Linked DNA regions of Homo sapiens. The protein of the gene in region 1 purifies or fractionates together with the protein of each later gene. This does not show direct contact. Each region holds a gene or a part of one and is shown on either strand. Other genes may lie near its edges. The genes, in order: CTTNBP2 and CTTNBP2NL.

Region 1 (3,828 bases):
GACATACAAAATTAAAATGCTCATAAAATTCAATATTTATCTAAACTTTATGATATTTTCCTACTGATACTCATTAGCTCTTCTTACAAAAGTAGTATTTTTACTTCATACTTACAAGAAGGCTCCTCTCTGGTACATTTTACCTTTTGTATTTTCTTAAAAACAAACAAACAAACAAAAAACAGGCCCACAAAAATTAAATCAGTACTTATTAGAAATGCATAAACAGAGAAATTATAAACACGAAGGCATAAAACCTCGACTGCAAAGCAAACACAGGCAATATGAAGGCATCGCACTACAGTCCTCTGTGGAACAGGAGGGAATGGGGCTCATACTCAGCCTCTCTTTCATTCTCTCTTTAGATCTCATCCAAGGGGTCTTGGTTGTTGATATTCTTTTATGAATACCAATATATGTAAATGGTTTGCTATTCTTTTGGGTTTTGTTTACATTTTTCTTTTTTCACCATAAATCTAGGCTTTTGAGGGGAGGAGACAGTTTAAATATATTTTTCAACTGCCTTATATGGAAATATTCAATTGCAGCTGTAATTTCCTGGGAAACCCTATTTTTAATAAGTTATCCGAAAGACAAATTTTTTTTTCAATTTGTTTTCAATCTTTAGACCACTCAAGGGTTTTCTTACACAGAACTACAGAAGATATATCAGTTGCCTTATTTTTTTAGAGGTCTGCAATATATTTTTAAAATCTTTACAAAAGAAAAATGCTTTATAAATACCAAGTATTTTAAAACTGTAAATATGTTTTATATCTTCACTAACATTTCCAATGTTGTCTAGCATAGACAAGCTTATTTTAATAAATCCTGCCTAAATATGGGAAAAATAGGACTTCATCATGAGACTATACTGTTCATCTGAAATTCCCGACAATCATAAAAATGGTAATACTTAGTTAAGAGGTTAAATAGTGGTTAAGACAGAACAGACCGGTATTCATACAGCTACTCTAATGATGTTAGCAAAAGGTCAATCAGTTTTGCAGTGTCATACGCAAACATTAGTAAGGTGAGCATCCTGCACAACATGCCAGGAGGAAGGGAATGACTGGACATGCAATGGCAGAGGGAAGGAGTGAGAACAGCTTCTGGCATCAGCTTCAGAGGGTGGAGAAGGTTAATGTCATAGCCCAGATCATTCTTGTTTTCTGATTTAGCCTTTAAGCCAATCATACATGGAGGATAATTTTTAAAAGATATGTTTCAATAGGGAAAAGGTGTAAACCAAATTAAATCAAATGTATCAAATAAAAAAAGAAAAAACAGAAAAAACAATTTCCAAGGGTATGGAAACTCAGTTGCCTGGAGTGATTTCTGGTTTAGGCTTCTGTTCATCTAACATTTGAAATGTGTCTATTTGGCAAGTTCAGGAGGAACAAGAAATTCTAGTTCATTTAGAATTAAGAATGTTATTAAAAAATTTAACATTTGGCTATAAAGGTTGCCAAATAGAGTTTGGGTAATTTATACTACAATTCATTAAAAGGCTAACTTCTGTCATTCCAATTTTCCTTGGGGCTCTAACTTAGTCATAATTTTTATAGATAAAAGCTTACATGGAAACACAGGATTCTAGAGTTGGAAAGATCATGGGCCAGTAGTTCTCCAAGGAGGGAGAGGTAGTTTGAAAATTTATCATGCAAGTTTAAATCTTTTTTTGTTCGGGAATATTATTATATAATTTTGGTTTAATGTTTTGAGACATGGTCTCACCGTGTCACCCAGGCTGGTGCACAGTGGCATGATTATGGCTCACTGTAGCCTTGACTTCCCGAATTCAAGTGATCTTCCCACTTCAGCCTCCTGAGTAGCTGGGACCACAGGCACACACTACCATGCCCAGCTAATTTTTATATTTTTTGTAAAGATGGGATTTTGCCATTTTGCCCCGGCTGGTCTTGAACGCCTGGGCACAAGTGATCCTCCTGCCTCGGCCTCCCAATGTGCTTGGATTACAGGTATGATTACTGCAGCCAGCAATGCTTTTGTTTTTAAATGAAAAAGCTAATGGCTCAGAGGGAATTAGCTCTCTAGGGTGATACTTAGAAAGGGGCAGAAATGGACTAATCCTGCCTTACTATACTTAGTTCAGTGCTTGTTTGATCACTGAAATTGGAAGAGACACCTGCCAGGTATTTGACAGATGTGTGTTGTCCCTGTGCCTTGCTTTGGGCAATCACAATGGAATCAGTGGCTGTTTGGAAGGTTAATCCCCTTCAAAGGGCTCATGACCTGGAGAGGCACAAGCTCAACCAGGCACAGACAGGTTAGTAAGCAGGGTGGAGGCAGCTCTGGTGTTTCTTAGTTGCAATGGTCACAGTGGCGAAAATAGGGGCAATCTAAATGCAAAACAGAGTTGAAATCCTCTATCTTATTTGGAAAGATCAGCTGAACTACATTTATACTTGAGTTGTAGAGTCGTACACCCCCATTGTGTAAGTGTAATCACACTTCCATTTCCCAGTCTAGGTGCTCAGTAAACACTTGCTGAATGACTCAAGGCCTCCAGTGCCTCCGTTCTCCCTTAATAAGCCACATCTTCTAAGCAAATGACATAGAAACTGGTTATTCTACCAAAAGTAATTCAGAAGTTCTGAGAGGAATAAATAAATAAAATACTTTGGTAAAATTGCAAAAGTCAGAGAGTAGAAAATAAGGAATCCGATTTCCGTATCTTCAGTCGCTGGTATTTTTTTTGGTTTCTGGTCTATATTGTCTTTTGCTCTCCAGACATAAGTGAAGGGCATTTTTCAGAGGAGTTATAGCTCTTTTATGTAAAATTTTACTGAATCCTAGGGCAGGATATCCTGGTGAATAGATAATAGATTAGTAAATCTCTGTCTTTAAAAGTTAACAGATTTTAATCCGTTAACTTTTCAATCCTGTTGACAAAATGTTCCTCAGTCATAGATCCTGGTTTTAAAGCTTCTCTGCCGAAACCAAAGGGCACATGCAGCTAAACCCAGGACCACAGTAATGACTAAGGCAACAAGTGGCAAAGCCTCAAGGTCTCAAAGTAAAGATGGCTTTGTATTTTTTTTAAGTGACAAAACTTCTATATCCTAGGAAGTGTTTTCTACTTTACAGTCTATGCATTTATGGCAATAGCACTGCCACTGCTCCACACATTTCTGGAACTTGTGTTTTGTGACTGCCCAAAGATCTTATAGTACATTCTCTATTCTCCTGAGTAGCAAAATTCCTCTCTGAGGGTGGATTTAATTTGTAAGAAACAGCCAAAATTATTTTAGGCCACGAGAAAAGCTGTTCAACTCAGTAATACCATTTTGGATCAAAAATATAGAATGCTGAATGCCTGTAAAGACATCTCAAAATAATACTAAAGTCAATTCCATAGCAAATTCTCAAAAATACTGTAAGCAACAATATCATTGAAGCAGTAATATCACCTCTATTTATTGATTACTCATGCTATTCTAAGCTCAATACCAAGCTGACAGGTTATAGGATCCAATCCTCCTAACAGCCACCCTCCCCCATATGAGTAGCAAAAGAAGTCACCAAAAATGCACAATTGTAAATGGCAGAGACTAGATTTCAACATAGATCTAACTTCCAAGTCCATGCTGCTTCCAATTCCCTATTTCGCCCCTCAAAATATGGATAAAGCCTCTCAAAGACCTTAATTTCAAGTTGATAGCTTATAATTGGACAAATAAATCCTAGTGTACTGCTGTCATCACCTGATAATTAGCAAATATGATGCTATTTGCTTTTCTCTCTCTCCCCTCAAAGTATTAAATATAACAACTGTTCAAACCTTCCTGTAATTATAAAAGTTCT
Region 2 (3,554 bases), on another chromosome or scaffold:
TCAGAATCGCCAGGGGAGGAGCCTGGGAATCTGCTCCTCCCCAGAGACTCTCATTTGGGAAATACTGGTAGTGAAAGAACAAAGCACTAAGGTTTAAATCCTGGCTGTCATATGCTAAGGGCCCTTGCACAGATCTCTGGCCCTCAACTACCTCATCACTACACTGGGGATAATAATACCTCACAGCACCCGTGTGAGGATTAATAAGGTAATATGTATGTGAAATCATTAGCATGGTGCTTGGTACTCAAGTAGGCACTCTTGACTCTGAATATCACTGACATTCTGCCAAACCAGTTTCAGGAGCTTAAGACATTTCCTTAGGTCAGAGGCAAATAGCAAGTTGTTGTGAAAGAACAGGTAAGGGCTATGAAGGACTGTTTCTCAAAACAGACTAGCTGCATCAGCTAGTCTGAGGATCTAATCTCCAGAAATCTTTATTTTAGCAGGCTTCCCAGGTTATACTTACGCACAGTAAAGTTTGAGAACCACTACTCCAGTCTCCTTTCCCCTCCTTTATTTTTACTAATGAATTGGCCACTGATACACAAATGGTGGGTGGACAGGCTCTCATTTCTCAACTAGTTTTATAGAAATTAAATTAAAAATTATTCCTGTGGAACAATGCTCATTGCCCACTTCTGATTCATTAGGAAAACACATCCTATTTTGAAGCCAGTGTTTTGAAAGACAGTTGAAGTTCCATTTCAAGGACTAAGCATCAGAAGCACTCCTTATGAATTCACACACACACACACATACACACACACACACACAAATTGACAAGGCAGCACTGCTGACAGGCTATTAAGGGAAACCGGATATGCTAGTATTTGTTGAAATGATCATTAATTTGCTTAAATGCTGAAAACTTCAGATATGTAAACATCCACACTATTTGAACATTTTTTAGACATCAAAGGATTTTCAAGTGCTTCTCTCTGGCTTGCATTTGCTAACATTGCAGCAGCAACAGCGCTGGAGTAGTTGAAAAGGGATGCATTAATCATTTGTAAAATGAGAGAGCAGAACAAGATTATGCTTTCTTAAGCAGAAATACATGAGCCATGGATGGCTTCAGGGTCTTTGGATCCTATGAAGCCATCAAACAAATTTTGCATATAGGCATATTCATTTTTCTAGGGATAAACTCCATGGCTTTTCTAAGATTCTCAAAAAGGTCCAGAACCACCAAAAGGTTTAAAAAATCACAGACTGGATTATTGTAAAGGCTTTTTCCAGCTCTAAGACTCTAAAGAAAATCAATGTCTTAGTTCCTTATGGAGTCTAACCTGGATGGGTCATTGACTTCATTTGTTTTGTCAAAGCCACAGTCAAGTGCTCCCTCTACACCACCCCCTCTTCCCAACAAAATATGCCCAAATTGTGCCATTTTTCACTTTGTACAAACAAGACTATTTCCCCCCAAACAGCAAGATTTAACTTGTTTTAATGCAGTCTGCTATAAAAATGAAGACTTCTGCATGGTATATTTGGCTTTACAAACGTTAATGCCTAGTTAATGCTTGTGTTATATGGTACACATCATTACAATCTGTTGGCCAGTAACAGCTTTTGCAACATGGGTTAATACTAAAATTGTGAATCATGGAACTTTTACTTAGCACACACACACACAATCTACAGCAAACTTAAATACTAATCTATAATACCTAACTGGGTTATTGGATCCATTGCAAGATTGTGCTTATTTATCTCAGAAGGTAGGCAACTAGCAAAAATACACATTTCTTTCGCATATCCCCACCCCCATATTACACTGTAAAAGAAATACATTATTCAGTGCACTTCCTAAGAAATAAACTTCCTTATAGTATCTCTCTCTATATATATCTATCCCAAAACAAAGGAAGAGCACAATGCAACTTTTAAGATTACCATTTAAAGCAAAAGAGACAATAACTCTCTGGCACTGTAGCCTCCTCTCCAGTTTAGAAAGTTTAGCTATTTTATCAACACTATTCGTTTTGGCTCTGCATAGGAATAAAGTTCAATGCATGATTGCCTTGGACAGTTTAAGATACCCCCTACATCATTTTGATAGACACCTTGGGGCATTAGTAGCATTTTTATTTTTCATGTATTTGCCTTTATCAAACTATAAGCTGTGGAGTTGCCAATATACTCCATTGTGATTTATACACTGATTTCCATCACCTGCCTTTTTACTATCAACTCTTATTAGATTAAAAGGAAATAGACTTAAATTATAGCAGGAGGTCAGGGCTGCTGGATAGATGTTGGCTCAGAGAATGTATGTGAAGACACCAAGGCCTCTCCTGTATGGACACAAAATCATATAACCACTGTGTCTGAGCTGGGTTGTGGATAGTCTTATTTGGCAGAGGGGGATAGCCATTATATTCTATGAACCTTGCCAGCTGTACTGGCCTACACAGTTGGAAAGTTTGGAGGCTTTTGTCCGCATAGACTTGCTATGATGAAAATGACAGAAGTTTCTAGAATGAAAGAGGTTGCAACTTGGCAGCTTGCAAGCTAAATCCAGCTGCAGACGTGTTTGTTTAACCAGCACCATTTAAACATTTTAAAATCACTTCTTGATATTTAAAAATGAGAATGTTTCTCATGAAAATTTGGATTTCAAAAAATGTGAAGAACTGGTAATCCTGGTTTAGCATTCTTGCACCGCAGCAAGCAGATGGAGCTGAACAGATGCCCTTTTTAAATGCGGCTTGGGCACTTTAGTTTGCCACAGCTCCCACTGCTCCCAGCTGTTTTACATCGCTTGTGTGAGAGGCCTGTTTCACTCATTTATATGACCAGTTGAGTTTTGTGACACTGGGGTTAGTTTAGCTCTGCCTATTTATTTTTTTAATAGAGATGGGGTCTCACTATGTTGATGAGGCTGGTCTTGAACACCTGGTCTCAAGAGATCCTCCCATCTCAGCCTCCCAAAGTGATAAGATTACAGGCATGAGCCACTGTGCCTGGCCAGCTCTGCCTTTTTATGATACTGAAGATCTAGGCTTCATTTGGAATTTCCTCACCTTCCTGTGGACAAAATTCCTCCTTTGATTGTGTCCCAGCCACATCTAGTTGCTTCGGTAGGTAATCTTAATGTGCAGTTCTACTTGTCCTTTATGCTATATTGCAAACTCCAAAGATATAATCACACTAGTATTTATGTGTTTAAGTGTGTGTATGTTAAACATGTAAAGGGGTAATGTATCTATACAGATATATGTATACTTCCCATTTAAGCAAAAGTTAATTTGGTTTTACAGATACAGATACCAGGTTCTGGCAGCTTGGAGAATAAGTGTAACAATTTGGTAAAACTTGTATAATTCTGACTGACCTATAATATTACAGAGTGAATTTCAAGTTATTGCTTTTTGATTACAGAATAAAAAATTCATTCTCTTGCAAAACTTTTATACAGAATGAGTAACCATTTCCTATTCAAGTAACAGCAATCAGAATCAGAAGTTCCTTACACAACAGTAGATGCTTGAGACATTTTTTGAATGGAGATGTGATTTCATTCTGTTCAAGAACTTATGCAGGAAACT

What was found.
Region 2: the proteins of CTTNBP2 (region 1) and CTTNBP2NL purify together in Homo sapiens (affinity purification with mass spectrometry; one large-scale study listed by BioGRID and IntAct). This does not show direct contact.

Annotation. Positions count from the first base shown.
Region 1 is NC_000007.14:117,786,271-117,790,098, forward strand, and holds part of CTTNBP2 (cortactin-binding protein 2), read right to left. Parts: intron 1-3,828. UniProt on the Homo sapiens protein: Regulates the dendritic spine distribution of CTTN/cortactin in hippocampal neurons, and thus controls dendritic spinogenesis and dendritic spine maintenance.
Region 2 is NC_000001.11:112,458,111-112,461,664, reverse strand, and holds the end of CTTNBP2NL (CTTNBP2 N-terminal-like protein), read right to left. Parts: 3' UTR 501-3,554; downstream 1-500. UniProt on the Homo sapiens protein: Regulates lamellipodial actin dynamics in a CTTN-dependent manner. Associates with core striatin-interacting phosphatase and kinase (STRIPAK) complex to form CTTNBP2NL-STRIPAK complexes.